4 separate regions of the Homo sapiens genome follow, and all the other regions are linked to region 1. Evidence: fine-mapped QTL for protein levels in blood plasma. Region 1 holds a variant in brackets. A gene starts in each other region. All regions are shown on their reverse strands.

The links. PIP is the posterior inclusion probability: the model's chance that the variant is causal. Protein levels are from antibody-based Olink assays in UK Biobank. Linkage for the fine-mapping came from a reference panel and not from the study's own genotypes, which makes the PIPs less certain.
Region 2: it holds the start of KEL, and the variant in region 1 is fine-mapped to the plasma level of the KEL protein (UK Biobank, PIP above 0.99).
Region 3: it holds the start of HEPACAM2, and the variant in region 1 is fine-mapped to the plasma level of the HEPACAM2 protein (UK Biobank, PIP above 0.99).
Region 4: it holds the start of ATG4A, and the variant in region 1 is fine-mapped to the plasma level of the ATG4A protein (UK Biobank, PIP 0.97).

Annotation. Positions count from the first base shown.
Region 1 is chr19:4,497,643-4,505,747 of GRCh38, reverse strand. It overlaps HDGFL2 (HDGF like 2), which reads right to left. Exons shown (of 16, transcript NM_001001520.3): 11 at 7,717-7,790; 12 at 7,372-7,442; 13 at 6,833-6,934; 14 at 6,044-6,257; 15 at 4,431-4,557; 16 at 3,541-3,837. The coding sequence ends at 3,738. It overlaps PLIN4 (perilipin 4), which reads left to right. Exons shown (of 8, transcript NM_001367868.2): 7 at 801-887; 8 at 963-3,556. The coding sequence ends at 1,289. Among named protein-coding and RNA genes, the nearest start is that of PLIN4, 17 kb to the left of the region's middle. The variant A/G (reference allele first, on the strand shown) is at 3,559.
Region 2 is chr7:142,959,502-142,967,606 of GRCh38, reverse strand. It overlaps KEL (Kell metallo-endopeptidase (Kell blood group)), which reads left to right and starts at 5,244. Exons shown (of 19, transcript NM_000420.3): 1 at 5,244-5,403; 2 at 5,735-5,812; 3 at 6,106-6,247; 4 at 6,503-6,679. The coding sequence starts at 5,401. RefSeq lists a cis regulatory region at 2,761-3,162 and a silencer at 5,285-5,480.
Region 3 is chr7:93,219,395-93,227,499 of GRCh38, reverse strand. It overlaps HEPACAM2 (HEPACAM family member 2), which reads left to right and starts at 1,031. Exons shown (of 10, transcript NM_001039372.4): 1 at 1,031-1,132; 2 at 8,049-8,105. The coding sequence starts at 1,054.
Region 4 is chrX:108,088,435-108,096,539 of GRCh38, reverse strand. It overlaps ATG4A (autophagy related 4A cysteine peptidase), which reads right to left and starts at 4,762. Exons shown (of 13, transcript NM_052936.5): 1 at 4,704-4,762. The coding sequence starts at 4,713. PSMD10 (proteasome 26S subunit, non-ATPase 10) reads left to right here and starts at 4,998. Exons shown (of 5, transcript NM_002814.4): 1 at 4,998-5,133; 2 at 7,690-7,788. The coding sequence starts at 5,020. RefSeq lists enhancers at 4,560-4,799, 4,850-5,249.

The DNA of each region.
Region 1 (8,105 bases):
CTGGGAGGGCGACAGCAGTCTGGAGTCGATATTTTGACGGCGTGCCGCATCCCTACCAGCCATTGAGATGATGAGGAAGATGGGGCCCTGTGGACAGGGTGGGGCGTGGGTGCCACGTGCTGGGGACACAGCAACAACGAGGACAGAGTCCTGAGTGTTCCCCTGCCAGGGGCGGATAAACACCAAGTCAATGAACACCAAAGCCGCACGCTGTGCTCCCGAGGAGAGGGGCAGATGTGACGGGAGGGACTGGGGCTGCCACACCATGGGCCAGGAAGGTCTCACCAAGGGTCACCTGGAGCTGAGGCCGAACGCGGACCTTGTGAAGGGCCCGGGAAGCAGGCTCCCGGCTGAGTGGGCAGTGTGTGCAAAGGCCCTGGGGCAGAAGCCTGCTGGAGTGGCCGGAGGGCAGAATGGAGCCAGTGTGGCCTCAGTGGAGACAGCAGTGGGGTGCCATGGGAGATGAGGCCAGAGGTGTCCCAGGGGCCAGCCCACCAAGGCCATGGTGAGGAGCTGGGTTTTATCTTAAGGGTACTGGGCAGCCACAGGTTTAGGGGTGAGGAGTGACACGACCCCACAGACACTGTGTTACGTGCACTCCCTGATGACCTCATGGGGAAGTTTGAACTATTGCCTCTTTCTGCAAGACAACACGCCCACTGTGGTACAACTGACTTGGAACTCGTGGCCTTTCTCCCAGGACTGTGAATGTGCCCAGGTCCCTGGGGGAGGGGGAGGTGGGGGTTGTGAAAGGTCATTTGCCAAGAAGCCATCATTTCCCCACTGTACTCTCTCTCCAGATTGAAAAGGCCCAGCAGGCTCCAGAAGGGCAGCCACGTCTGGACCAGGGCTCAGGTGCCAGTGCGGAGGACGCTGCTGTCCAGGAGGTGGGTCTGGCACAGGGCTAGGGTCCCCCCACCCCGCCCATGGGTCTCCACTCACCTTGCGCCTTCCTCCCACAGGAGCGGGATGCCGGGGTTCTGTCCAGGGTCTGCGGCCTTCTCCGGCAGCTGCACACGGCCTACAGTGGCCTGGTCTCCAGCCTCCAGGGCCTGCCCGCCGAGCTCCAGCAGCCAGTGGGGCGGGCGCGGCACAGCCTCTGTGAGCTCTATGGCATCGTGGCCTCAGCTGGCTCTGTAGAGGAGCTGCCCGCAGAGCGGCTGGTGCAGAGCCGCGAGGGTGTGCACCAGGCTTGGCAGGGGTTAGAGCAGCTGCTGGAGGGCCTACAGCACAATCCCCCGCTCAGCTGGCTGGTAGGGCCCTTCGCCTTGCCCGCTGGCGGGCAGTAGCTGTAGGAGCCTGCAGGCCCGGCGCGGGGTCGCCCTGCTCTGTCCAGGGAGGAGCTGCCTCAGAACTTTCTCCCCGCCCCCAAACCTGGATCGGTTCCCTAAAGCCCTAGACCTTTGGGGCTGCAGCTGGCTGAGCGCCGAGGGGCTGCGGAGGCAGTGACCTTCTTAACTGAGCCACCCCACGCCCTGCTCCGGGCCTGCCTGCATCTCCCACCTCCTCCCCAGCGCTGCCTGCCCCTCTCGGAGCCTGGGGTCACTCAGACCACCAGCCAAGAGCCTTCCCTTGAAGTCCCCAAGCAAGCACTGCAATTAGGAAAGAGAAAAAGCAGCGTGCCCAGCCTGGAAGGGCATCTGTTTGCCCCGCTAGCAACCCTTTTATATCTAGCAGGGCTCTTCCAGTCCTGCAGCACGGGCCCCCAGCTATCAGCGGTGCAGGCAGTGCTGTGGCATCCCAGGCTCCGGGCAGCTCCGTTCTCATGCTGAAAGTGGGTCTCCGGCCTTAGCACACACACCTTGAGGGTCTTAAGAACCACATTCCCTCATAGTAGAAAGTACTAGAAAAAGCGACACTGCCATCATCATCCCAAGGCAGGCTGCTACTGCCTTTGCTGACCCCCGGGGTGGCCTCACGGTGGGGACAAAGCTGCCAGGAGCCACAGCAGCCACAGCTGGGGCTTTGCACCAGCCTGGCTTGAGACTGAGCAGTTTGCAGGGGGTGGGGGGTGCAAAAAACAAGCAAACAGGCTGCTGCTGCCTCCAGCTGCCCACCACAGGCCTGCCCCAGGCACCTGGGGCTCTGAGGCCCCTGGGGAGGCTGGGCCCAGCAGCTGCCCCTGGAGAACACAGACAAAGGACTTCCCCGCAGGGAACTGTGCCCTATGGAGGGATCAGACAGGGCTGGGAACAGCCACAGAGGCTGCGTGCCTATGGCACAGCCCTTCCTCCGCCGCACACTCCCCCTGGGTCCTCAGGCCCACCCAAGCGCCGGGCTGCAGAGGAAGCGGGGCTGGGGAGGCTGCAGGCATCAGAGACACTGGTGGTGGCGGACCCGGCCGCCGGGCCCCGTGCTCTCAGGCTAGCCCAGGTCGTGGAGGCTGGCAGGCTCAGGTCGGGTGTGAGACGTGCCGTGGCTGCGCTCAGTCCAGCGGGGAGGAGCCGTTCAGCCCGGCCTCCCCAGGAAGCCATATCCCCACTCACCCGGTAAGAGAACCTTGTCGTCCCCTTTCCATGCTCTCCTAGGACACGAGCCCAGGAACCCCAGACCCAGGGGGAGGAAGGGTGGAGGGGCCCCAGGGGTCACCGTGTGCACCAGGGGCCGTGAGGGGCCGGGGCATTCAGCTCAGCTCTGAACCGGGGAAGCTGGCACGGCAAGGACTGCCTCAGGTGACGGGCCGTGAGAGGGGACGGGTCAGGAGCCTTCCCAAGCCTTCTCCTCAGCCCGACACCCATGGCCATCGGAGGCTAGGATGCCAGACACAGCCATTTGCAGAAATCAGGCACAGTGACTGCAGCTCACGTCCAGCCAACCAAGCATGGGGCCGCAGCTCAGGAAGTCCCTTCCCGCCACACCACAGCCTAATTCTTACTGGGACGGAGGCAACTCGGCTACGCTGGGCAGGACGACAAACACGAGACGCCACTGTGGAATGAGCAACTTCGGAGCACGGGGTGACTTGCTTGGGACCGTGCCCACGTGACAGCCCCTTATGCAGAGGAGGAAAGAGAAGCCCCGAGTGGGAGGGGAACCTGTCCAAAGTCACACGGTGTGTGGGTGACACAGCTGGGGTGAGTCGAGGCTGGCCCCTGAGGCCCATGCTCCCTGAACGCTGGAGACCACTGTCGGCTAGCAGCGGCTCTCAGGGAAGGCCTGGTCTCCACCCTCCCAGCCTAGCCTCGCGGACCCTCGTCCTCCCCACATCGGACCTGCTCACCTGCCTGGACCCTGGGCTGCCAGATGCAGGAAGCATCAAACCCCCCAGCCTCGTGGGTGCGGGGCAGGGCGCAGGCAGCACAGCTTAGATGCCCTGGTTTGTCCCTCTTGTCTCCTGGGAAGAGCTTGCTCCCGCCCAGCTCTCCTGCCACTGGCCTTTCAGGGTTGGGCTGGGCCCAGAGTGCCTTTTAGTCGCTTCTCACGGTGGCCTGATGGCTCAACCCAGTCCCAAACGGGCCCAGTGACACTGCCGCCTGCGCCCCAGCTCAGGCCCCCACTGCACCAGCAATGCTAGAAAACCAAGCCAATAAAAGTGATTTCTTTTTTCATTAAAAAACC[A/G]TTTATAGTCATTTCATGTTGGTTGGAAATCACAGAAATTAGGCAGGAAAAAAAAACCCAAGGGAACAAATACAAACAGCACAGCGTTCCCCACAGTTCTCTGCTCTGCTCTCCTGCGAGCCGGGGAAGGAGAGGGGCAGCCTGAGCTCGGGCGGGGGCTGGGCCTGGCTGCCCGCGGCTCAGCTCTCCTCGTCCAGGGCCTCCGAGTCCCCCCGTGCCCTCTCGCGCTCCTGCCGGTCGCTCCCAGGCCTGTCCAGGTCGGGACCCTCCCGTACGCTGCTGGTGGGAACAGCAAAGGCGGTGTGAGGATGCCCTCCCGCCCCTGCCCTGCCTGTAGGGCGGTTGGGTGGGATGGGCACCGAGGAGTGTACCCCCGTTGTGGCACCTGAGGCTCGAGTGCCGCCCTCCTATCTGCCTGTCTTCTGCCACTAGAGACCACAACCATCTCCAGGGTCCCCACGCTGGCGCCAGCCAGGCATAGCACAAGGCAGCTGCTGGGTAAGTGAGTGACTCCACTGAGCCTTGTACCAGACAGCAGCCCACAGTGATGGGCACAGGCACCGTCAGATAGCCGGGTGCCCGTGCTCGGGGCCTACCTACCTGGGCCACCCTGGAGGCTCGGCAAGAAGCCACCTTCCCAGGAGGCCAGGGGCAGGCAGCTCAAAGCCCTGGAGCTGCCTCTCTGTAGGGGCCGCCGGAAGTGCCAGCCAGCGGGGCCCTGGGGTCAGCTGTGAAGGTGGGAGGCCCGAGTAAGGACGACATCCCTGGGACCCATCCCAGAGGGACTGGCACAGGAGGAGCGGCTCGGACCCAGGGTGCGCGTCACACCGCTGCCGCTCAGGAGTCCAAACCCCACGGCCCGGGACACTCACTCGTGCAGGTCTTCAGAGGAGCCACACCTTGGCCCCTCCTCCGAGTCCCGACCCTCCTCGTGCTCCTTGTCCTCTGCGCTCTCCCCCTTCTGTGATGTGGCCTCGCCATTCACTGGGGCTGAGAGATCTGGGTGGGACAGAGGGGTCACAGGACACTGCTGGGCTCCAGCTGGGCACCCCAGAACCCTTGCCTGTCAAGGACTGGACCAGGGGCCAAGCTGAGCGCCGTGGGTGACACATGCCCATCCACCTGGACCCCAGCACCTGCTGTCCAGTCTGCAAGCTCCTGACATGGGATGCTGCAGCCAGCCCCAGCCCGAGCCACACTGGCCTGCAGAACTGGGGGCCCAAGAAATGAGGGAACGTGGGCAGCCCTGAGAAAAGCCCACAGCAGCCTGGGAAAGACAAAGGAAGACAAGGTCGGGCACGGGGGCTCACAATCCCAGCACGTGGGAGGCCGAGACGTGAGGCTCACTTGAGCCCAGGAGTTCAAGACCAGCCTGAGTAACATGCCAGCAACCCTGTCTCTACAAAAAATACAAAAATTAGCACGTCCTGGCAGGGCGCAGTGGCTCACGCCTGTAATCCCAGCACTTTGGGAGGCCGAGGAGGGCGGATCATGAGGTCCAGAGATTGACACCATCCTGGATAACACGGTGAAACCCCATCTCTACTAAAAAATACAAAATATTAGCCTGGTGTGGTGTTGGGTGCCTGTAGTCCCAGCTCCTCGGGAGGCTGAGGCAGGAGAATGGCGTGAACCCAGGAGGCGGAGCTTGCAGTGAGCCAAGATCACGCTACTGCACTCCAGCCTGGGGGACAGAGCAAGACTCCGTCTCAAAAAAAAAAAAAAAAAAAAAAAAAATTAGCAGGGCATAGTGGTGTAGGCCTACAATCCCAGCTCCTCAGGAGGCTGAGGTGGAGGATGGCTTGCGCCCAGGAAGTCAAGGTTGCAGTGAGCTGTGATTGTACCACTGCACTCCAGCCTGGGGGACAGAGCGAGACCCCATCTCAGAAAAAAAAGAAAAAAGAAAAAAAAGACACTAGCCTTCGGCTGCCCCCTGGGCCGCAAAGCCCCATCCCAAGCTCGCCCATCCCATCTCCAAAGGGCTGCTCTGAGCACCTGTAATGGGGCCATGTCAGCCCAGTAGCCCCACAGCCAGCAGCCCCGAGGGTCACACCTCATCTCCTGTCGGCCCACCAGGCAAGCAAGGGCACCTGAGGCCTCCGCCCCCGAGCCTCCACCGACTGCCTCTCTGAACAATGCCCCCACTCTTTGCCCCCGCTGCACAGAGCCACCCCCCTCTCTGGGCGTCCCAGGGTGGGAGACGGTGGAGGCGTGTGCTGTCATGCACTGTCCCCGTCACCCCTCTGGCGTGAGCCCCAAGTTACCTGCATGCTGGCTGCCTGGCACACGGTAGGACCTGAATGCCCCTCACTGGCTGCCCCAGGGATTAAAGCCGGGTCTGCACGGAGACCCCAACAGGACATGACACTCTGGCAGGTTTGGGGCAGAGAGTAGAGCTGTACTCCCCTTCTGGAATGTTCTGCAAAGCATCTGTTTCTTCAGCTGAGGAGACTGAGGTACAGGGCCCACCCCACCCGCCCCTCACCGGTGCTGGGCTTGTCCTCCGCCTTCTCCTGGGGGGCCTCCTCCCCGGCCAGCTCCTCCCCGGCCAGCTTCTCCTCGGCCTTCTCCTTCTCCATCCCAGCCTTGTTCACTTTCTGCACCGCCTCGATCTTTGGGCCGAGGACCCGCGACTTGAGCCGGGTATAGACTTCTGCTGCCTTCTCCATTACGTCCTTGTTCGCTTTGTAACGGCGAATCTGGCCACCAAGAGAAGAGGCCTGGCTCACCCAAGTGCAGCGGCCCTAGCCCCGGCTCTGAACCCCTCGCCCCAGCAATGCGCCCCTCCCGCAGCCCCTCCCGGGAGCACAGCTCTGTGCAGCAGGCATTTCTTTTTTTTTTTTTGAGACAGAGTCTCGCCCTGTCACCCAGGCTAGAGTGCAGTGGCGCGATCTCGGCTCACTGCAACCTCCGCCTCCCAGCTTCAAGCGATTCTCCTGCCTCAGCCTCCTGAGTAGCTGGGATTACAGGCGTGCGCCACCACACCTGGCTAATTTTTGTATCTTTAGTAGAGATGGGGTTTCACCATGTTGGTCAGGATGGTCTTGATCTCCTGACCTCGTGATCCGCCTGCCTCAGCCTCCCAAAGTGCTGGGATTACAGGCGTGAGCCACCACTCCTGGCAAGCACCAGGCATTTCTACCCAGCAGCCCACGGCCTCCTCGCTGACCCAGGGCTGTCCCGACAGGAACCTGCTGGGGGCCTGGGCTCCCGGGCAGGCACTTGCTCCCAGCTCCCCCGACTGCACCCTGCGCCTCTGATTCCCCCGCCATACCTTCTTCAAGGTGGCCACCACGTCTGTGTTCTTCTGGAGGATCTGAGAGGTCACCTGCAGGGTTCCCAGCTCCTCTAGGGCATTCAGGCACCTCTTCACGTCCTGCAGGGTGGGGTGGGAGTGAGGGAGACGGCCTGGCCAAGGGATCCCCAGGGGTCCCAGGGCCCCGATGGGTGGAGGAAGACATCCTGGGCTCTCCTTGAGGGGAGCTGTATCTGCAGAACAGCTCCCCTCAGCCCCCGTCCAGTTGACGGGGAACTCCAGGGATAGCCAGATACTTGGGGTCCCAGGTACGTGGGGGTTGGTCCTGGGGGCCTCCACACACCACCTGCCGGGAAAGCTGGGTGCTGCATGTCAGGACCAGCTCCCCCAGGGCCCTTGGCCAGGAGACCCCATGCGCTCACTAGCAACCGGAACAGACTCCTGGCCCACCCAACTGCAGGACCCCGGCTTTGCCTCAGTTTCCCGAGACATCTAAGGGAGCCTGGCAGGGAGGTGGCAGCGGGGACTGCTTGGCTCACAGGCCCTGAGGGTCTTACCGGGCTGTCGACCTTTAGGGCAAACTTGATCTCACTGTGCAGCTTCTGCAGCTTCTCCTCCACGGAGGGCTCTGGGCCAGGAGAGAGAGCACCGTGTGGGCCCAGGCAGGGCCACAGGGGGCCAGCTGTTCAAGGGCAGGAGCCTGAGAGCCTCTGGAGGATTTGTCATGGGGGCCCCAGGTCTGCAGGCTCAGCCCCCACCCCTGGAGGCACCGCCGGCCAGGCCGGCCGAGGATGTGCTGAGCACCCTCTCTAGGGACAGGCGGGACAGGCCAGCCACGCCACGGCTGTCCCCGTTCCCCTCAGTGAACTCAGTGTGGGCAGTGCTGGGCAGCCAGGCCTCACCTTTCTTCTTCTCTACCTTCCTGTCCATCGAGAAGCCCTCGGACCGCTTCCGGGTCCGCTCCACCTTCACGGGCCTGTGGAGAAGTGCTCCCCTCAGTCGGGCCCCGTCACCGGCACTCTGCCACTGAGGGGCTGGCGCCTGAAGGGGTGGACCCAAACCCACTGCAAAGGAAACCTTTGGGAGGCCCTGGGAGCTAAGCCGGGAAACGGGAGGCGGGGAGGCCCTGCCACAGCCTAGGCCTAGGGCAGACCAGGGCAGCCACAGGCTCGAGCTGCCCAAAGATACAAGCCTTTTCCCGAGTTCTCATGAAATCCCAGGATTCTTTTCCTCGTTCACATGGCCAAGGGCTGGCTTTGTCTACCAGAGTCAGCGAGCTAGGAAAAGGCCC
Region 2 (8,105 bases), not on the chromosome of region 1:
AGGTGAAAAAAAGTAGGTAAAAATTACCCAGCTACTTTAAAACTGATGTAGGACTGAAAACCAAGTTTTCCAACTCCCGGGTTCAGTGATCTGTTCATGATAGGTTGCTTCAAAGGAAAACTGTCTTTCTCCTGTGGCATATTAAACATGACTGCAAATTATTTGCAAATCCTCCCCTCAAGTGGTGGAGTTTATTTTAATCTCAGCTGGCCTTGGGACTTGAATTGACAAATAGAATATGGCAGAAGTGATATTGTATAACTCCAAGCCTAGGTCTCCAGATCCTTGCAGCATTTACTCTTGCTCTCTTAGAATCTAGTTGCCATGGGAACTAGCCCAAGCTAGCCTGCTAGAGGGGCCTCATGGAGGAGATCTGAGGCACCTTGGCCAACAGCCCCAGCCAACCAAGAACCATGTGTGTGAGACCATCCTGGACTAGGTAGCCCTGAAATGGCCTGCTATGTGAAACCAAAGATGCAAATGAGCACAGAGGATACTTCAGCTCTTCCTAATTTGCCAATCCATAGAATGGAGAGCCAATTTTTTTTAAGCCACCAAATAAGGGGTTGTTTATTATGGAGTAATAAGTAACTGGTACATTTGCTAAGAGGGAGACCACACAGCTTGTCCCATTCTTTTGTTTCTCATTGTTCCAAGTGAGACATTTAAACATAAGAATAAATGCTTGCTGGGCACGGTGGCTCATGCCTGTAATCCCAACACTTTGGGAGGCCGAGGCGGGCGGATCACCTGAGGTCAGCAGTTCGAGACCAGCCTGACCAACATGGAGAAACCCCGTCTCTACTAAAAATACAAAATTAGCCAGGTGTGATGACACATGCCTGTAATCCCAGCTACTCGGGAGGCTGAGGCAGGAGAATCGCTTGAACCTGGGAGGCGGAGGTTGTGGTAAGCCGAGATTGCACCATTGCACTCCAGCCTGGGCAACAACAGCAAAACTCTGTCTCAAAAAAAAAAAAAAAAAAAAAAAAAGAATAAATGCTTGTTCCTCTAACCATTGAGTTTTGGGTGGTTTGTAACAAAGCATTATTATGGTAGTAGTTGACTAAGACCTTGGTTTTAGCAAGAACTTATGTAAATTTTCTTGAGGAAACATATGTTGAATTGACACAACTTATTAGAGTCTCTGTATTCAGAGTACTATCTTCAAAACCTGTTGGATTAGGAAGAAAAATGTGGTGGCATGTAGAAAATACCAAAAAGAAAATAAAAAAGGACAAAGATCCTCCTTTTGAGCTGTTTCTACCCATACATAATTAAAACTCCAGACTTCTGAGCATTTTCTTCAAGTTTTTGACATATTCAAGTACCAATACAGCTATTATTTGTTTAGTATATTTTAGTTGATTTAATAAAAATACAGAGGCTATGTATTTTAGTCTTCTTAGAGTCATATATCTATAAAAGAAAAATGTATATAAAAATGAAAATATTGGACCAGGTGCAGTGGCTCATGCCTGTAATCCCAACACTTTGGGAGGCCAAGGCCAAGAGATCGAGACCATCCTAGCAAACATGGTGAAACCCCGTCTCTACTAAAAATACAAAAATTAGCTGGACATGGTGGCGTGCACCTGCAGTCCCAGCTACTCGGGAGGCTGAGGCAGGAGAACCGCTTGAACCCAGGAGGCGGAGGTTGCAGTGAGCCAAGATCACGCCACTGCACTCCAGCCTGCTGACAGGGCGAGACTCAGTCTCAAAAAAATATATATATATATTATATATATTATATGTATAATATGTATTACATATATAATATATATAATATATATATAATATAAATATATATATAATATATATAATATAAATATAAATATATATATAATATATATAATATAAATATATATTTATATATATACACACACACACACACACACACACACACACACATATTGAAAGAGGTCCATCTACTTATCACTTAAATTATTTCAAAAGCCACTTTGTGGTATACTGAACTTACAAGCTACTCTTTCCCAAAGGAGCTCCCCAATTCTCAAGTATTGCTTCCTTTGAAAGAGCAATCAGTGCACCCCAAAACCTGCCCCCCATGATCTGTTTCTCCATCATCTTCTGGGCAAAGTCCTCAACATTGCTTGTGATGTCAAGGCTTACTTCGGTTCACTCAGAACTGGGTTTATTGTTCTTTAGGGGGTAGCTTCTTAGTGGCTATCACTGCAATCGAGTGATCTTAGAAGCAAATTGCCAGTCATGTGCACACTTGAGAGTGTCACAATAGACAGATTAATGTCCTGTCCTTGATTTTGATACCACATCCACTGTAGATGGCAGCTGATTATGGATAGAACATTGTGGCAAAGGCCATGATCTTCAGATGATGAAACTGGATGTTAGAGAGTTTGAGAATACTAGTCCCCAAAACTGTCACCTCACAAGGCCAAGCAGTGAAACATAGTTTAAAAAGAAGAGTTTAGATGAAGGAAGATGTTTACTATGAAGAAACTTCCAAAAAACAGATACTTAGTGACTGAGAGGCTCAATGGTTAAGGCTTTGGTTCAATTCTCGGTTCTGCTAATTATTAATTTTGTAACTTTGAGTAAGTTCACTGTACTTTCATATCTCTCTGACCGCTCATCTATAAAATGGGGAAAATAAAAGCTGTTATTTCCCTCAGAAAGTTGCTGTGAAGACTGAAGGAAAATGTACAAGCAAAACATTTAGCACATTCCTAGCACAAAGAAGGTGCTCCGTAAAAAGTGGTTATTTTTATTATTACCAATATTTTATTTTGATACTATTATGGCATGAAACAAAACCTCCTGGAATTAAAATAAACAGACAGGACAATTGAGGGCAAGAAGGAGGCAGCATCCGAAAAGATAAATGTGGTCCATGTGCCACAGCTGTTAACACACCTCTTCTCGGGGCTTAGATCTGAGTGAAGGCTGCTGCACTCCCGTGACTGGGTATGGCTGTGCTGGTGATGACTCACCATGGAGTAGGATATGGGTGATAAGAAGAAGTCCTGCTCCTGAGACAGCTCCCAGGATGGAGGTTGCTTGGCCTTCAGGAGGAGGCTGAGTAGGAATGGTGGACCTGGCAGCTGTGCTGCCCTATCCCTGTGGCTGGCTCAGCTTCTCTGACAGGGAGAGAACCTAAGTCCAGGCTGTGGTGGCTGTCCATAGGCAAATGTCACAGAGCACACTCCATCTTCAACTTTCTCTTATCAAATCTAAGTGGTCTCCATTATCATCTTCCTAGGGAAACATCAGCTCAGGGGCTTTGATTGATAGAAAAGGAGTGAGGAAGGGAATATGTGTGAAGGAAGCTAAAAGCCCATGGGGAGAGTATTGGACTTTCTGTGGAAGGGAAGTTTGAAGAGGAGGCACCATCAGGGTGTACCCACACAGACCAAACACCTCTAGAATCCTGAGTCAGCTTTTTCCCCTCACTCTGATTCCTACTCCCCCCTTAATCAAAATTCCATTGTTCGCTGGCATCACTATTCCCCTAGTCATGCAGAAATGCAACTTGGAGCTCCTCTGTGGCTCTATCATAAACCCCTCCTCCATTCAATCCATTGCCATGACTTTATTCCATACAATTTTTCTTTCTACGCACTTCCCTCCCCTCTGCCATCCCCTTGGGCCGGGCCCTCCCTTCATCACTCCTGCAACACCAAACTAACCACTCTGTTTCTTGTCTTTTATCCAATCAGTCCAGATCCCCAATACCACACCGGCGTTTCTTAGATATTATTGTATCTTGCCACACCTTTCCTCAAAAGCCTTATTTTTCCCAATGCTTTCTTTTCTAATGTATGAAGTTCTGACTTTTCTTTATGACTTTCATGATACCCGACCAGCTGGCCCCAGGGGGCACAATGGCTTTACTCCACTTCTCCACACCCACCCTCATCCTGGCAAGTGCACCATGGCCCTAGCACAGTGCTGATGGAATCTGGAAATATCGCCAGGGGATCATTTGCAAGACTAACCTAATAAATTACATTATTTTTTTCCTGGGATGAGGAAACAAGGACAGAGTTGAAACACCTTCCCCCAGAAATGTGCTTGCCTCTCTCAGACCACAGGTAAGGGCTTAATATGATGTGAGAAAGAGGATTTCTGGCTTGGAATGCAATTCATTTCTATTAACATTTAGAAAGCATCTTGGGTGGGCAGGAATGAAAACCAGACACTGTACATGCTATGACATAGTTTTCAATCACTAAGGAGATGAAGAGGCAAGCTATCAGTGTAACAGAAAGCAGAATGAAAGAAAGAGGGGCTCAGTAAAGCCTTATTCTTTTGTAGAAGGCATGAGATCCTATGAGGTAGGCATAGGCAAGTATTACCCTCATTTTCCAGATGACAAAACTTGCTTACCTGCCTCAGAGTTTAAGTGGCTTGTTTATTGTCACAGAGCTAATAATTAGCAGATTAGGGTCTCCTAGCTGGGTGATCTTTTGAATGCATGACTTTGCCAGCAGCCAGCAGAGCTATGAAACACCGAGAGAAACAATTAAGCATGCTTGGGAACAGTGTGAATGGGCATGGAGCTGGGAGGCCTCCTGGGAAAGGTGGCATTTGACCTGGGAATTGATGAATCCCAGAAAAGCCAATCAGAGAGGTGTGAAAACAAAATTAAAATGGAGACTGGGCCTGAAAAATTCCCAGGCAAACAAAGCCAAAGACCTTAAAAATAGCCATATTCTTGCTAAAACTACAAACATAAATTAAACTTAACTTGGGTCAATTTCTGATAAATGCTTACAACAAATAAAACTTAACCCCAGCCAATGATAAGCAGCCAACTAACATATGATTATGTGACTAGGGACTTTCCAAAAAGTTACCTAAAAAATGCAATTATGTAACTGCAAACTAAGCAAATAATGTTTCATTTTGCTTCTATAACTTCCCAATAAATGCTTGCCTCTGACATTTTGTCATCGCAACACTAAACCTTTGTCGGTCTGGTGCTCCCCAATTCATGAATTGCTTCTTACTTAAATAAACTCTTTAAAATTTTACTGTGCCTCATATTTTTTTTAATACAGAAGAAATGAGAGAAGGAAGAATATTTTAGAAATAAAGGAACTTCATGGGCAGAGTCACAGTGCAAGACAAAAGGAGCAGACCAAGGGCAAGATTGCTTGGGGAGTGAAGACTCCCTCCCTCTTCTCCCCTGAGAAGCTGAGATAAAGGGGGAGGAGAAGCCTGGGTGCCCCCCACTGATAAGCAGGCTCCACCCAGAGGCCAGTCCTGTGTGTCTGGGGACAAGGCGAAAGAGCAGCAGAAGTGCCCCTTCTCCAGGATCAAGGAACTGGGGCGGGGGGTGTTTCCTGGACCCCAGTCCTCCGAATCAGCTCCTAGAGTGGAACCAGGAAGGATTCTGGAGCCACAGAAGATAGACAGATGGTAAGTCCCCTTTTGGAGTCAGAGGCTTAGCGGGGAGGGGTGAGGGTGGCTGTGTGCAAAAGTCCTGCCCCCACTGGAGGGGAGGGAATGTAAGGCTTACAGAGTAGAAAGGTGGGGAGAGAGGGAGGTAATGGGAGAGGGATCGAGAAATGGCACATTCAGGGGACAGGTTCGTTCTGAAGCCCATCTGGGAACACTGCTCCGAGATAAAAATATGTGTGTGGGGGCAGGGCAGGCAGCGAGGGTATCAAAATGGCCTGATAAAACTCTCTTCAATGCACCATTTCCTGAACCAGCTTCTCTCTCCTCCTTCTCCCTCCACTCACTTCAGGAAGGTGGGGACCAAAGTGAGGAAGAGCCGAGGGAACGCAGCCAGGCAGGTGGAATGGGAACTCTCTGGAGCCAAGAGGTAAGTGGCCTCCTCTCCTGGGTCTGGAATACACTGATGTTGTCACTCTCGGCTCTAAAATCCCACAAACACTCATCTACTAACTGTCTGCTTCATCCTCACCCAAAACAGTTGACATTCCTTGTTTTCTCATCTCCCAGGAGTTAAAGTAGGGCTGGGTTTAGGAAGAATTGGGATAATTATTTCTGTATAAAGGGACTGTAGCACCAACAGATTCATTCTCTCTCCTCTTCTTCCCATCCCTGTCTCTCAACCCCCATCTTGTATCTTTCACCTCTTGGTTCCTCCCACAGAGCACTCCAGAAGAGAGGCTGCCCGTGGAAGGGAGCAGGCCATGGGCAGTGGCCAGGCGGGTGCTGACAGCTATCCTGATTTTGGGCCTGCTCCTTTGTTTTTCTGTGCTTTTGTTCTACAACTTCCAGAACTGTGGCCCTCGTAAGCAAGATCCCAGACCCCCTAACCTAGTCAGCCCTCCCCCAGCCCTGGGGCCCAGGCCCAGTCCCTGCTCCTGGGGCTTCTGCCCACCCTGACCCTTGGGGTCCCCATGGTTCTTCTTCCTCCCTGCATCCTAACCATTTCTTTTTCATCAGCTCCCCACTTAGTTACTCACCTGATGTTCTTTGCCTAGCCCCTTGGGGGAGCCCTTGTCTTTTTGCCTCTTCTTTCCCAGCTCTGAGCTTTTCCCCACAGGCCCCTGTGAGACATCTGTGTGTTTGGATCTCCGGGATCATTACCTGGCCTCTGGGAACACAAGTGTGGCCCCCTGCACCGACTTCTTCAGCTTTGCCTGTGGAAGGGCCAAAGAGACCAATAATTCTTTTCAGGAGCTTGCCACAAAGAACAAAAACCGACTTCGGAGAATACTGGGTGAGGAAAGCAGGGTGGAAGATGCTCTGTGCAAGTGGGTGACTCTGTGCCTAAAATGACCATGACTGCTCCAAACCCTGTGTAGTTGTGGAACAACTGATTTGCACCATCCCAGGTGGGATTATACGGGTGGATGATTGGAGATGATGGGGGAGTAAAAGAGGCAGGATGGCGGGAGCTGCCTGGGTTTGCTCATCTCTCACTGTTTCCTGTTGCCTTGCCTTGGGTACCCTTCTTCCGTTTCTCTTGGTCCCTTTCTGCATTTTTTTCTTTATCTAATTTCCATCTTCTTTGCTTCTCCATGTATCCATAATTACTCCATTCTCTCCAACTTGTCCCTTTTAGCAAGCTCCATCTTTGTTGCTTCCTCCAAATGTTCAGTTTCTATCCTATGCATGGTGTTTTCCTCCACAAGCATCTCTTCAGCATCTCCTGCATTTCAATTCTTTTGTCCATCACTCTCATTCTCTAACCTCCAAAACCTCAGTCTCCCAATGACTCCTTGTCAACATTACCCTCTCCCTCTCACCATGCCGGAGCTCCCCTCTCTCACAATGATCTCTTGCTTCTTGCTTCTCCATTGAAACCTTGAACCATGGCAAGCAAGTTGACCTGGAACAAGTGGGATGTTAGAGATGGATGATTGGAGATGATGGATGATGGTGGAATGAAAGGGGTAGGATGGTGGGGTGAGAAGTGAGAGAGGGCTTCATCACTGTGCATAAGAGAAAAAGTGGGTAAGTACAAAGGATATGCTGGAAGAAGAGGAGAGCTGAGTTAATTGGCAGTGGAAGTAAAGTTCCTGCAGATGGAGGCTGGAGAGGAAAACTGCCAGGACTGAGAGGAAAACCAGAAGGATGAGCTGAAACTGAGTAGGAGGTTGGAAGTGCGTCCCAGGAAGTTGGTGGATGGTGGTGAGGATTTGGGAATAAGAACATATAAGATAGACATGCATTTCCAGTGCAAGGGAACCTAAAGAATGTGTTGACACTATCAATTAGAATCTGGGAAAAGTAAATGCACCCCTCTGCCCTCTTTTTTTGATGGGGAAAGAGTGGGAGGGGGCCTCTCTTTGGGTAAATGGATACTTTCAGGGAAGGCACAGAGATAAAAAGAAAAAATATGCTCAGGATAAATTATATTGCCTACAATGGGATGAATAGATATCAGGGGGACTGAGGGTGAAAAGAGTGTTAGATATTAGAGGGTGGATGATTCAGAGAGACTTGCATTTGATTATTGTAGTGTGTTTGTTTCCTGGGATCAATGGATGAGGAGTCTGGACTAGAAGAGTCTTCCCCTGTTTCTTCTCTTTGCTAAACCTTTCCTTATGAGTTTTCTTCTCTCCAAATCCTTAAAGTTCTCTAGTTCCCTGAATTTGTCTAATTTCTTCAATCATTTCTTTTGTCTTTCATTTCTCTCTTTT
Region 3 (8,105 bases), not on the chromosome of region 1:
TTTACTTTAATTATGCTTGAGGTATAGTCTTCCTTCCCCTCTTATCATTGAACTTCTTCAGTGGGCCTTTACTGTTAAAACTGATGCATGCAAGGAATTTTCCTTGATTTGATGATTTGATGCAGATTTGGATATATCCTTAACATTTTATATAACAAGGCTAGAACCAGAGCCTTCTTGCAAATAGGGGTTAACTAATAACTTAGTAAATTAAGCGGACATGCTTAGACTATCTGCTGCCATGACAATGGAGAGACCAGGTTGAAAACCTGTAACCTGGACACTGCAGTAGAGGTAAGATCTTTTCTAGATCATTGGTTCACTTCCTCTATGCATCAGCTGTGAAAATGTGGCCTCAGATACTATCTCCTGGCATGCACTTTTCATTATAATTATGCATGGTCCATGCCTCAGTCCCAGTTGGAAACACACCTGTGATTTGCTTTTAAAAATAAGATGAATTCAAAGATTAAATGAAATCAGTCATTGTAATAGGAAACACTGCATAGAAAAAATACGTTTTAAATATATTCTGGATCTCTCTTTTGATTCATTGGTAGAATTTTTACATGTTAGTGACTTCATGAAGATTTATAACTGTTTAGCAGATACATGAGCTACTTCAATTTTCATATAATTTTTTTTAATTTTAAAATAATAATGGCATAGTTCTGCATGATAGAAAACCAGCTTTTGTTTTTAAGGAAATCTCACAATATTCTTTCATTATGAAAACATGCCATTTTTCAGTAAAGTCACGCAAAAGGATGTTTTCCTTCATGTGATTTTTTAATAACTAAGTATAATTTATGAAATATATAGACAATTACTGGTAGTTGCTAAGAAACTCTTCTGAAAGCCATAAGCCTGTATTCTTGCTAAGCACATAACAGGTGTTCCCACTCCCTGTGTCCTTTGTATACACATTCATTCTGTATTCAAATCACAGAAGCAAGAGGCAAGATAGGGTCTGTTACCTCACTGCTAATTTCCCTAGCAAATAAACCAGCAGCTGCTGGTCCAAGTTACCACTGAGAACAGGGCACTGCATGCATGGGACAGGATGCTTTCATGGAGCCCTTCGGTGACACACTTGGGGTCTTTCAGTGCAAAATATACCTCCTTCTCTTCGGTAAGGCCCTGTGTGAATTGTGTTTTAGCTGTTTGTTAGGTTTTTTTTTTTTAATTGTGGACATAAGGTAAATATTTGCTTTAGGCTGTAGATGCATTCAGATAATTGAAGAGCAGGTCAGAACCTTTTAACAATAACACACTGTTACAGCAAAGAAGCAGGAACATTTAAGAGAAATGAGTTTCAATAAATAGATTGTTATTGTTTTCTTGGAACAACAATTATTGTCATAGCACTCATTAAGATAATTCAGATATTTTTAAAAGATAATGAATTTCTTCTTTTAGAGTTTACATATAGGTTCAATAGTCTTTAATGCATTTATTTCAGCAAATATTCTAATAGGCCATGAAATTGTGACCACTTAGAGTGAAACTACAAATAATTTACGAAAATTGTTTTCTTTTTAATTAAAGATATTGTTGCAAACTGTTTACTGCTTCGTTTTAAGTTATCTGTCTCATCTTATGAAATATGGAAGAAAGGTAAGATTCCAAACTAACAAAAAAATTTCCTACACAAAAGGGAGAACGTATTTGAAAAGATTGTTACTCCAAAATGCCTTTAGCTTTTCTCTTTGCCCAATGGCTAGTCCTATTAAGAATTTTTTTCTACCTTAATATTTTCCCTCATTCTCCTCTTTATCTTTTGAGTTTAAAGGAGTCTCTTTCCAGCATTCCAACTGCTGTCTGTCAACATTATTTTCACCAGATGTTCTCATTTCCATTCTTCCTATTTATCAGTTTTAAAAGTCAAATCAATTTCTTGTTTTGTTTATATTCAACAGATAGGAGTTCAATTAAGGCTACATTTTTTAAAAATTAAGAACAGCTTAGCAAAATAAGCAATTTAACTTTTAGGCTTCTTCAGCTATTTAGAGCTTTACTTTCACTCCTATATTTTGTTAAAGTTTGCATTGTAAATGTTATTATTCAAATTCATACCTACTGTTGTACCTATCTCACACATTTGAAATGTACAGTTTGTAAATTTTTTTAAGTCTTTGAGTTTCCCAGAGTTGTGATTGTTCCAGTTATCACAGTATTTATGTTATCAAATTTAAGCCTATAATAGATTTTTGTTTTCTAAAATTTTTTGAAAAAGTAAATAATTATTATAACTGTCACTACCTTTGTGCATTTGTCTTCCTTTTGAAAGTATCCTGGGTCATCATCCCACTTATTTTTATATTTAAAACAGTAGGACTACTATCATTTTATAAGTGTTGTTTTTGAAACTGGCGTTAAGAAGAACTTAGAGACAATTTAGTTAAGGAATTCAACTAAAATAAAACAAATGTACATTAGGAAAATAGCATGTTCATAAATAGCTAAAGCAGTTTTTATACCTTAAGACCTTCTCTCTTCTGCAAATTTGCTTTTCTCCATAGGCAGTGTGTTGTAAAGACCACAGATGACTTGGCAATCTTTGCTTTTAGGAATATTGAAGTTTTGTTTGCTTCTTCTTTTTAAAAAATTTTTAAAAATTTGAAGCCTAAAATGTACAGTTTGTACAGTTTATTCAAAACACATCATAATTTCTATTTTCTCTAAAGATGCAAGATTTTATTTTCAGTCAACAATACTTGTGTTATGCTTGTTAATACCACACATGATAACAGGGAAGTAAATGCCAGCTATTTTGAGCTACAGCAGAGGTCACTTTGTGAAATCTGATGTTTATATTCAATACAATGAAACCGGTCTAGGGAGTCCTTTGTTGCTGGAATATAGATAAATTCTACAGTAGGACTTCAAGTGTACCTTAACACTGGATACTTTTTTATAGTGCTATTGTCATACAATGTAAGAGGGTCTGTAAAGGAGGGATCATTGCTGCAATTTTGTATGTCAGATTATGATTAGTATTATAAATGTTTCTCCAGATTTGTGTAATGCCTTATATGCAAAAAGTCAAGATTTTTTTAACAGAACTATAATTTATAAGAGTTTTTGTTTGTTATACTCAGAAAGTAATAGTGAATATAATAATAAAATCGAATTTAAATTTCCGTTTAAGTCCAAATATTTGGACTACTAAAAATAAATTTAAATTTCATCAATTTTTATATTATTTATTATTTTTGTTTTTGTATTTTTTCAAATAGAGACAGAGGTCTCGCTGTGTTGCCCAAGCTGGTCTTAAACTCCTGGGCTCAAGCAATCTGCCACCTCAGTCCCCTAAAGTGCCTGGGATTACAGGCATTAGCCACCACAACCAACCTTTTTATATTATTTATTTTCTTGAAGTTTATCTGTTCATGCAGAGGATGATTTTCTAAAATCAATAGGTTTAGTCCTTTGGGTTTTCTCATACAACTAGAAAAGAGCACTTGAAAATTTCTCAAAATGAAGCTAAGTTTTCTCACATTAGTAAACTACTGTGTTTGACAGCATGAATTCATCACATCTGTAGTGGGTGACACATCAATGATAAGAGAGTATGTGTTCCTAGAATGTGGAGGAAGCATTCAATTATCTGTTTATTCCCAAATTTCACTACAAGCAAAGATTGTATCATATTGATAGGTTCATGTCCAATGAAGAGATTTTACGTGGCTGAGATAAGATACTGTATAAAGAAAATTTCATTCCCTGCTGACATTCTTATAACTTGCTACCTATAATTTATCTGATAAAAAATTGTATAGGCAATCTCTAAGCAAATAGTTACTGTAACAGCTGTGCTATTTCTCACTGTCACACAAACATTTGAAAAAGCATACATATTTGAAAAAAACTTTTCATTTAATAAGAAAGCACTGAACCTATTCAGAGATATTGATGGCAATATATTATTTAAGGTATTATTACATGATGCAGTCTAAAATAGACCCCAAAACTAATTTTCCCCTAAATAATGATCACAAACGCTATATTAAATATCTTTTTCTACTAATGTAGTGTTATTTTTTCTCAGAGCTTCAATATTTGTATTGTATTTAATATTTCATTAAATAAAATTTTCCTCCTATAATTTTAGTCATGGACTCTCTAACCAGTCTTTTCATATTTAAGATTCAACATTCTGGGTCAAGATCCAAAAGTCATCAACATTTCTATTCCAGCAATATTGTCACCCCATAGTAATATAGTGCCTCCCAACCATTTCCAGAATATTAAATAAATCTCAATCTTTTCAAATATAACTACAAAGGAAGTCAATTACAAAAAAAGCAGAGAAGGACTTTTGCAATGGCTTTCCCAAATGACAAGCACAAAATGGGTCAGAATCCATTCAGACCTTCTCAGCCTAATGGTGGTTTCTAGGCTGAGTTGTGAAATGTCCTAAGTGAACCAACACATCCATGACAAAGCTGCTCCCTATTAGCAGCCATGCAGCTTTTTCCAGTGCATTCCCAAGGCAATTATACAGACTTCCATCATTCCCCTTGATTTCTTTGTAAAAAACACAGAATTGCTGTTTTATTAAAGGATATCCAAGGATTGACAACTTAATATATGAACCAAAAACTGGGACTCAATTCTTCAAAATTATTTAGGCCCTCTCTCAATTTGGGTCCTCTCAAAACTCTCTGGGCCCTTCACCTTCAAATATAGGTAGCTGCTACCCTTAGAAAAGCACCTCAGGTTGTCAATAACATAAAATTAAGAGAGTCGAGAAAGGCCTTACACCTTATCTGATATTACCTCCTATTCACACATGAGAAAACTGAGTCTGAAAATTAAAATGACTTATTTAAGGTCACATAACTGACCAATCACCATTTTACCCCAAGTATGTGTCCTTTACTAGGACTTCATATTTCAGTAGATCTTTAACTTTATTAAAGTAACAAGCACAGTAATCTTCAAGTTAAGAGAATAGGTGCTTGAAAATCATTATTTTAGAGCTATTTGCAAGTGATAAATTTAAGACTCAATGGCGGACATAGAACATGGGAGTCCAAGATCAGGAGTGAGCCATGAAACACTTGTAAATATTTTCATATTTACACAAGTAAAAAAAAAGGAGGGAGCAATACACTTAATACAGTGAAAGGTCCAATTTACATATCTTAAGTTAGTAATAACAGGTACTAAGCCTATTTTTTTTTGTTGTCGCTTACCAGGAACTTGTCAGGAACTGCCTATCTTCAACTTCAATGAAAGACATATAAATGCATTTTGTTTTGTACAGAAAACAGATAGACAAAGAGGAATCTTTTCCTGTGCTGATCTCCCATCCAAAGGCCCAATGTCTTACTAAACCTATGACTTTAAGAGTTTCACCCCGACTGTCAGCCTCTGCTTCACATATCTTAGACATCACTAATTTTGAGACATAGATTTCTCTCTCCCATCTTTCTTTCTCTCTCCTACTATTTCCTTGCGAAAACCACTACTTCTTTTCTGCAGTCCACTTTATCTCCTCTTTAGAATTCCCAGCACCCAGTTTTCTCTTTTTCTAATCACTCAAATTAGGAAAAATTCCAGATTTAATAGTCTTACACTTGGCAGAAAAGAATACAGAAGGGAATTCTCATCTTTGTAACTGCTTTGTTATGGACCAATCACCAAAGTGTGCAAGTAGGTCCATTATCAGAAGAAAAAAAAATTCTTAGAAGTTAATCACAAAAACACACAGAGGCCAATGAGACAATAAGACATGTCTTTATGTTTCTTTTACAGTCATCTGCTTTTCAGTCCATATGGTAAGTTTCAGTTGCAAGTCTAGGAGTCTCTTCTCCCTCTAACTAACTATCTTCCTCTTTGGTGTTTTCTCCTCTTGGATTCTTTCCTCTAACTTCTCTGCCAACCCCAGAGTCTCACTCTCTACTAATAGCTAGCCAAAGGCCCAAACTGTGGGAATCTTTGCTTCTACCTCCACTCTGGGAAGGAAGGAGATAAATTTACTGTTGGTAGAACTGGATTCCTCATAGGAACAGGCCTACATCTTTGAGTTTTTCCAAGGAAATAATCACAAAAGGCAAACAGATCTTTCTACCTTTCCCTTTTTAAAATTGATGGCCTTTCATGACATGACTTGGATGAAGCTTGAGGACTCCCTTTCTAGTAGAATGAAATCAAAAAAATGTAGAAAAAAATGAAAAAGTGGAAGCGATCAAAGAGGATGAACATTTTGTACTTGAGAAATTTAAAATTGTAAAATGCTTCTATTTATATCTAATTTCCATCTCTTCTCACCTGCTTAAGGATTTTATTCCACTTTCACCCATCTCTATTCTGCCTCATCAACATTTCCCTTTCCAGTGAAACATTCCCAATAGCAAAAAACTCTCTTTATTTCACATTTTTGATCCTTCTCCAGCTTCTGTCCCATCTCTCTGGTCCTCTTCACAGCAAAACTTCCCTAAAGTGTTGTCTATACTCATTGTCTACAGTTTCTTTTCATTGTCTATTTTTTCTCTCATCATTCAAAATATTCCACATTTAAATTTCTCTCACTCTCTCCTCTATTACGTCAAATGTTCCTATGATGTAGGTATCATATTGCCCCTTTTAATATGAGGATTTTGAAGCAAAGAGCTTCCAGCAACATGGTAACCTGAGCTAAGGAAGACTCTCTTCCCCCTGCAAATACATAGAAATGCTAAATAAAATAAAATAATATATCATGGCTTAAGGTAAGACGGGGAAATCTCCAGTTGCCAGAAACTGGGAAGAAACATGAAGATACAGCAGTGAATGCATGGGTCCACAAATCCCCAGCACTGCCCAGGGCTATCCACTGGGCAGAGCTCCATGCCCCAAGGCCCTCTCAGGCCCCTCATTCTCTCTTAAATTCACATTAATCAGGATTTCACAACATTGCCTCTTAGATGTCTAATGGGCATCTCAAAATGAACGCTCCCAAAACTGAATCCTCGTCTTCCCCACAAAAACTATTCTCCCCACAGTCTTCCCCATGATTAATTTATTTACTGCAATTCCTTTCTTCCAGTTGGTCCGAGTCAAGAAGCTTGGCATCCTCTTTGTTTCTGACACCCTCAAAGTGTCACCAAATCCTTTTGTCACAATCAGCCTTTTTCCAAAACGTCTTTTACTAACACCCTAGTTTCCAGCACAGTTGTCTCTGGCCTATTACATTGCAGTCACCTCCTAACTAAGTGTTCTCCCTGTTCCTGCTCTAGCCCTATTCCTGTGTATTCTCACAGCAGCTAGACTAGGTCTAATAAAACATTTAAAAAAATAGCCCTTTTCTGTTCATGAAACTCCTATTGCATCCCCATCTTAGAGTAAAATTGCCAGAGTTTTTCCCGTGATCCTAAGGTCCTGCCAGTCTGTCACAGCCACCTCACTGACCTCATATCTTATCATGCTCCTCCTCCTCCACTGTGCTCCATCTGTACCTGCCTCTTGCTGTTTCTCAAATACACCAACCAGATGCCTGTTCTGGGTGGAAATAACTGGTCATGACTGATAATGGTTTAATACCACTCTCCTTGGGATATTTGCATTTGGCAAGCATTTGGCTAAAAGGAAGAACTTCCAATAATGGAATATTCAGTCATTTCAGACAGCTTTAAGGGAAACTGTTGGGAGGAAATAACCTCTAGTATTTCTCAAATCACATAGTTAGATTATGATATGATATGACAGACATTAATATAGTCATAATTCCAAATGTTTTAATGGTTTCATTGGACTTTAGAAGTAGTAAACTTTCTTAGTTCTCCTTTTCCCATTATTCCGTAGCAATCGTAGAAAATAACTTCTGCTTTTCCTTTTTATCTTGTGCAACCAGCACGGTCTTTGGGTGGAGTTTTTTAAGTGCAGAAGGTTTCAGGGACAAATATTTACCTCTATATGTAACCAGTACTAGAATAGTCAGTACCTAGAAGCCACTCTTCTTTGAAAAGGATTATCACCTGATCAGGTTCTCTCTGCATTTGCCCCTTTAGATTGTGAAATGTGGCTCAAGGTCTTCACAACTTTCCTTTCCTTTGCAACAGGTGCTTGCTCGGGGCTGAAGGTGACAGTGCCATCACACACTGTCCATGGCGTCAGAG
Region 4 (8,105 bases), not on the chromosome of region 1:
TTTTATGGTGAAAGGTCACTATACCCAATACTTTGTGAATACCACAACACAGGGATACTGTACCTCCATAATCAACTAGAGAAGTATTTATTGAATATGCAGGGCACTTCTGCTCTATACCAACTATGACTGGCAGGCTAAATTCAGCCCATCTCATGTTTTTGTGTGGCAAGCAAGGTACGAATGATTCTCATAATTTTAAATGGTTGGAAGAACCACCTTCAAACACTGTTAGGGAACACTGAATGGCTTTGGAAATTAACTTTTGATGCAGGCTGGATAATGTTTATTAATTAATTCAACCTAAAATTACAAGGCAAAACAATGCTTATATATGAAAAAAACTGTAGTAAAGTCATTTTGACAATATTATTTGAATCACAAGTAATGTCAAGATGCTTTATCCACTTCCCATGCTGTCACAAGTCAAAACAATAAAACCACAATTAAATACCACTTTATACCCACTAGAATGCCTATAATCAAAAAGATAGATATTAATAAGTATTGGTAAAGATATGGAGAAATTTGGCTGGATGTGGTGGCTCACGCCTATAATCCCAGCATTTTGGAAGGCCAAGGTGAGCAGATCACTTGAGGACAGGAGTTCCAGACCAGCCTGGCCAACACGGCAAAACCCCGTCTCTACTAAAAATACAAAAATTAGCCGGCACGGAGGTACATGCCTGTAATCCCAGCTACTCAGGAGGCTGAGGCACAAGAATCACTAGAACCTGGGAGGCAGAGGTTGCAGTGGGCTGAGATCATGCCACTGCACTTCAGCCTGGGCGACAGAGTGAGACTTTGTCTCCAAAAAAAAAAAAAAAAGAAAGAAAAGAAAATAAGAAAAAAAATGTGGATAAATCTGAACCCTCGAACATTGCTGATGGGAAGGTAAAATGGTACGGCCACTCTTGTAAAGAGTCTGAAAGTTTCTCAAAAACTTAAACAGAGTTACGATATGACCCAGCAATTCCACTCCTAGTTAAGTACCCAGAAGAAATAAATGAAATCTCAGCTGGACATGGTGGCTCACACCTGTAATCCCAGCATTTTCTGAGACCTAGGTGGGAGGATCACTTGAACCCAGGAGTTCGAGATCAGCCTGGGCAACATAGTGAGACCCTGTATCTATAAAAAATCATAAATTGGCTGAGTGTGTTGGTGCATGCCTGTAGTTCCAGCTGCTCCAGAGGCTGAGATGACAGGATTGCTTGTGCTAGGGAGGTGGAGGCTGCAGTGAGCCGTGATCGTGCCACTGCACTCCAGCCTGGGCAACAGAAGAAGACCCTGTCTCAATAAAAAATAAAATAGGCTGGGCACAGTGGCTCATGCCTGTAATCCCAGCACTTTGGGAGGATCACCTGAGGTCAGGAGTTAGAGACCAGCCTGGCCAATATGGCGAAACCCTGTCTCTACTAAAAATACAAAACTTAGCCAGGCGTGGTGGCATGCGCCTCAGGAGGCTGAGGCAGGAGAATCGCTTGAGCCTGGGAGGCAAAGATAGCAGTGTGCCAAGATCGTGCCACTGCATTCCAGCCTGGGTGACAGAGTGAGACTCTGTCTCAAAATAAAATGAAATAAAAGTTAAAACAAGAAGCAAGATATCTATTTCCATAAGAATTTGCAGCATATATATTTTCTGAATTCAGACTACAGTTCCAGCAGCAGTTTTTGAACCCTGAAGCAAGTGCAAAGGATATTCCATATTCCAAAATCCCTTTAACTGTGCAATTGAGCAGCTTTCACCAAACTTTCAATTGGAAGTGATTAACCTGCCACATAATGCTAAAAGGCACTATTAAGAGAAGAACAGAATTCTATTCCACGCAATGAATATGCTCAATTAAAATCATGTTTGAGGATAGTGTATGATAAGAATGTGGTACTTGACCTCTGCAGACTTTCTTCCAAACACATAATGCCAGTCTAAGCATAAAATTGAGGGGTTTTCTACAAAATACCTGACCAGTACTCCTTAAAACTATCAAGGTCACCAAAACAAGAAAAGTGTGAGAAAGTGTCACAAACCAGAAGAGGCTAAGGAGATACAATGACTAAACGTAATGTGGTATCCTGGATGGGACAGCATCTCTAGAGATAAACTAGTGAAACTTGAAAAAAAAAAGCATGGGGTATAGTTAATAGCAATATACCACTGTGGGCTTATTAGTTGTGACATAGATAGCATAGCAATGTAAGACGTTAATGATAAGAGATTCAGCAAATGGTGCTAGGACAATTTCTACATCCACATGCAAAAAGATGAATTTAGACTCTCACCTCACATCACAGAGAAAAAATGAACTCAAAATGAATCATAGACTTAAATGTAAGAGATGAAGTAATAAAGCTTTTAGAAGAAAACATTGGAGAAAATCACTGAGACCTTGCAATTAGGCAAAGACTTCTTAAGTACAACACCAAAAGAATGGTCCATGAAAGAAAAAAAAATGATAAATTGAACCTCACCCAAATTCAAAACGTTTTCACTTCAAAAGACACCATCAAAAAAAGAAAAAGGCAAGCAACAGACTGGGAGAATATATGTGCATATCATATATCTCTCAGGGACTTGATCTAGAATATATAAACCATCCTTACAACTCAACACTAAAAAAACAAATAACTCAATTTAAAAACAGACAAAAGATATAACAGACACTTCACTGAAGAAGATATATGAATGGCTAATAAGCACATGAAAATATGCTCACCGTATTATAAATTATAATTTATAAATTAAAACCACAATGAGACACCACTTCACACCCACTTAGAATGGCTATAACAAAAAACACAGTAAATAACAAATGTTGGCAAGGATGTGGAGAAACAGGAACTCTCATACATTGCTAGTGGAAGTGCAAAATGTTGCTGCCATTTTGGAAAACAGTTTTGCAGTTTCTTAAGAAGTTAAGCATAAATTTTCCCTGTGATCCAGTAACTCCACCCTTAAGTATCTATCAAAGAGAAATGAAAAAAATATGTCCGCACGAAGACTTACATACTAATCTTCTTAGCAGCACTAGTCATAGTAGCCAAAAATTGGAAACTGATGTGCCTATCTAATAGTGAGTAGACAGATAAAAATGTGTTATATCCATAAAATGGAATACTATTCAGCAATAAAAAAGTAAGGAAGTACTGATACATACTACAATATGGATGAATCTCAAAAATATTATGCTAAGTGAAAGAAATCAGACACAAAGACTGCATATTGTATGATTTCATTTATATAAAATGTCCAGAATAGGCAAATTTATAGAAACAAAAAAGTAGATTAGTGGTTGTCTGGGGCTGGGAATGGGACAGAGGATTGATTAACTATAAATAGGCATGAGGGACCTTACTGGAGGGATCAAAAAGTTCTAAAACTGATTTATGGTGATGGTTGCCCCACTTCAGTAAAGTTACCAAAAATCATTTAATTATGCACTTGAAATCAGTGAATTTTATGATATGTAAAATGTGCCTCATTTTGAGTGAGTGTTATACAGGAACTCTACTAACCTTGCAACTTTTCTATAAATCTACAACTATTCTGAAATTTTTGAAAAATTAAATAAAAATAAAAATAAAAAAGTATATGTTTATGAATTGATATCAGTATTTGGCAGTACCTATCTATGTAAAATGACATTTTCAAAGATTAAATAGGTAAAAATTTCCTAACAGATCAGCATTAACAGATGAACACTTAAAATCAATTTTGACAATAGGGAACACTAATTCTGAGCCCCAATTAAGCAAAATATTATCCCCTAAAAAGAATTCTATTCTTCTCATTGGTAGTCTTCCTGTATTACAAAAAAAGTACTCAATTACTATTATATTTTGAATTTCATCAATAAAAATTTGTTGAAATTTGTTTTCTCTTTTGTCATAAAAGTACCAACAAAATATTCTTGATTTTGCCTTTTGGCCTACAAAGCCTAAAATATTTACTATCTGGCTCTTTACAGAAAGTTTCCCAACTCCTGTTCTACACTATAACAGGATAAACATAAACATCATGAGTCTCTTTCTTGAATGTATTCTTATCGTTACCTAGTTGTGGCATAATGTCCTCTGGATATGCCCTATAAAGGATCAGTCTTGCATTGCTTCTGCTATGGCACTATTTGGGATTTCTATAAAAAGAAACACTATTAGCTTAATAGTTGTAGCAAAGCCTTGACAACATAGTTAATATCGTGATATTAAAATGCCAACACCACAGCCCGGTATCCTTAAGATGACCCTCATCAAGCTGTGATGTCACCAGGCTATGGACTCACCGAGGTCTCTTAGATATCAGGTGGCTCCCACGGCATCACACCCTGCCTTTGGCATCACCCTGGCACATCACCTCAGTACGGTGCCATATGCTATCACTGCTGTGGTAGAACCCTGTCCTGATGCCACACCGCCGAGATGTCAGAGTAATTAACCCCCACTTCTTTCCACTCCCTAGGCGGTGGCAGGGAGGGGGAGGGTAGCCACAGTCACCGGTTCGAGCTCAGTAGGTAGTACTCAGCTCCAACCCTTGTCCCTTCCGCCTGCCACTGCAGGTCAGGAACCCCGGGGGACAGGACCTTTAGGCTCTCATAACTCTTGCCCTGCCCCCGAACCTGTTTCATATGGCCGACTCAACGACCCGCCAGCGACTACCCACCCCGGCTCTTTCACACGGTTCCACTCAAAGCCGCTCCCCGTACCTGACTCCATTCTCCAGCTGTCATCCTGGGCCAATTCCACCGGCAACTTGACTACGGACGGACGGTCGCTAGGATCCCTGGGACTTGTAGTTCTGCACTGCTAGGGGCCAAGTCTGTGAGGGCAGCAAAGGCGCCTCCCTGCCCGGAACTGCTCTCAAACTGCAACTCCCAGAGGCGCCGCGCGACGGGAAAAGAAAAGGGAACGAGGAAGGCCGGTGATTGGTGAAGCTCTAACGGCTGTTTTGACTGGCGTAGCCGGAGCCGGCGACGTGAGGCGGGCGTTGCTCGCGCGACAAGTAGTTGCTGGGACAGCGAAATGGAGGGGTGTGTGTCTAACCTAATGGTCTGCAACCTGGCCTACAGCGGGAAGCTGGAAGAGTTGAAGGAGAGTATTCTGGCCGATAAATCCCTGGCTACTAGAACTGACCAGGTAAAGCAACGCTAGGTCTCTCCGCAGTCGGCGACGTCGGCGAAGCCCTACGTGGCTTTCGGGGCCCGGCCCTAGCGGAGGCCCCGTTTCTGAGAGAAGCAGAACCCCGCCCCCGCCGCCCCAAGCAGTCCCCCTGGGTCACCTCGGGACTCGCGATAGGCCTGCGGGAGCTAGCCCCACAGACCTCAGATATTTTCCCGTTGGCCCGGAGCTCCGCTCCCTGATTTTTGGATAGTTCTAGAACGTCTACCGCATTTCTCAGAAACTCCCAATCAGTGAAAAGGAAGGCTTTTTATATGGATTTATTTACCTTTACTAGTAACTGTATTCAGTAACGCATGTGAAATTGAACGCCCCTTCCGTGCCAGGCAGTTTGCTAGGAGCTGGGGATACGGTGGAGTGGAAGATGCAGACAATAAAATAAGCACAAAAACATGTCCGATTACAAATTGTGGTAAATACTCGGCAGAGAAGTTTACATGGTGCTTTCAGAACACGTTAATAGGAGGATCTGATGCTGAATATGACTGTCGTTAATTGGAAAAGTTTTTGCAAAGAAGGGAAGGTTAGTTAGACTTTGAAGCATGAGTGGGATTTCCATGGGGGAATGAGTGGACATTCTAAGCAGAGGTAGACAGAAGTTTAGAAGTGTTTCTTTCTGCCCTCCTGCTCACAGGACTCTCGTGCTTTCATCCTCAGTTTCTAGGATTCATGGTGCCTTTAGTAAGCCCACAAATATTTATAGATGGCCTTGTGTTTCGCAGACAGTGTCGTAAGCACTAGTGAGACTGTCCCATACTTACAGATCTCCATTTTGTGTCTTTTGGGAGAGAATTAGAAATCAAGAGACTGTTTTCTCTTTTCTGGAACTTTCCTTTATTACTCAACCTGAAAATGGCCTTATCTTTACCTGGTTTACTTCATTATGGTCTGGTGATATTTAAGGATTTAAATTTAAATGTAATACTTTATATTAAGATTTAATACTCCATTGGAAATTTAACCATTCTTCAGTCAAGTCAGTGGCTTAAAAAGGGAAAGGAACTATTCAGCATCAAGAGACGTAAAAAACATGAAGAAATGCAATTTATGGATCTCGTCTGGTTCCTGATTTAAACAAACCAACTGCAAAAAGACATTTGGGAGACAGTTGGGGGCAATCTGAATACAGACCGGATATTAGACATTCTAAAGGAGTTAGTGTTAATTTTAGTAAGTGTAATAATGGTCTCATAGTTATATAAGAAATACCTTTATTTTTTACATACTGAAAGAGAAGGGTGAAAAGTCATGATATTTAGGATTTGTTTTTGGAAAGCTCAGCAAGGAAAAAACTAGTTAAAGCAAATAGGGCAAGATGTTTGTTGTTAAATCTAAGCAGTAGGCCTGTGGGTTTCTATTCTATTCCCTCTATTTTTGTGTTTGAAATTTTTTTGTAATAGAGTTTAAAATACCATTTTCTATTCTGTGGGGCTAAGAAGTATAGCAGTCACTGCAAATAGGGATTCCCTTTGACAAATAATGACTACTATAGCTTTTTTAATTTTTATTTATTTTTATTTATTTATTTTTTGAAACAGAGTTTCGCTCTTGTTGCCCAGGCTGGAGTGCAGTGGTGCCGTATCACCTCACTGCAACCTCTGCCTCCCGGGTTCAAGCGATTCCCCTGCCTCAGCCTCCCAAGTAGCTGGGATTACAGGCGCCTGCCACCACGCCTGGCTAACTTTTGTATTTTTAGTAGAGACGGAGTTTCACCATGTTGCCAGGCTGGTCTAGAACTCCTGACCTCGGGTGATCTGCCCACCTCAGCCTCCCAAAGTGCTGGGATTATAGGCGTGAACCACCGCACCCGGCCATAGCTTATTATTTTTTATAAAAAGTAATTTTCTTGTTTTCTGTGTGTTGTGTTTTCTAAATTATATTTCTAATTTATTTATGATTTTAAATTCTAGATAATTTCAACTAGTTTAATGAACATTTCTTCCCCCATTAGATTCATGTGTTCCTTCTACAGCATCTAACTTGAGGTCAGTGTGGTAGTAGAGATTTCAGAGTCAGAACTTCACTGACAGTTGTGCCCCAACTTCACCATTTAGTATCCATATGACCGTCCACAAGTTGCTTACCCTGAGGAGTTTTAGTTTCCTCATCTGAAAAATGGAGATAATAAGCACTGTGTAGAATGGTAGGAATTAAATGATACTATACATGTAAAACTCCCAGCACAGTGCCTGACATAAAAGTACGTAAATAATGTAATAGTAAAACAACCAAAGATGTATTTCTGTCAAAGCATTGAAATCAGTTTCTTGCTCTACTACTTTCCTTGTCGTATTCTGCCCAGAATTACGTATGTTCATCAATGTCATTCTCCCCATGTTACTTAAACCTTCATCTGTCTTATACCAGTAAGTAATATAGTTTAAGGTTACCTACCTGAGGATCCAGTGCTCTGCATTTCGTATTTTCAAACTATAGATTTGCCAGCACCAGTATTTTTTTTCTTGCTTTTTTGCCTTCTATTTCAAGAATGTTTCTATTACTGCTTCTCTGTAGGACAGCAGAACTGCATTGCACTGGGCATGCTCAGCTGGACATACAGAAATTGTTGAATTTTTGTTGCAACTTGGAGTGCCAGTGAATGATAAAGACGATGTGAGTACTTTGATAAAGTTGAGTTGATAAATTCCCAGTTATCTTTGTACTCCAGACTGGTGTTTACTGAAGCCTGTGCATTAAGCTTATAAAGAAAATTGTAACCTTTATGACTGGAAAGTTACATCATGGCCCTTGTGATCAAGCATGAGACTCATGGTTGCATTATTTTACAATGTTATGTTTGCCACTCATACTCTGTGATTTAAGGTAAACATACAGGAGAGGCTGAGGTAGGAGGATTGCTCCAGCCTAGTAGTTTGAGGCTGCAGTGAGCCATTGTACTCTATCCTGGGTGACAGACTGAGACCTTGTCT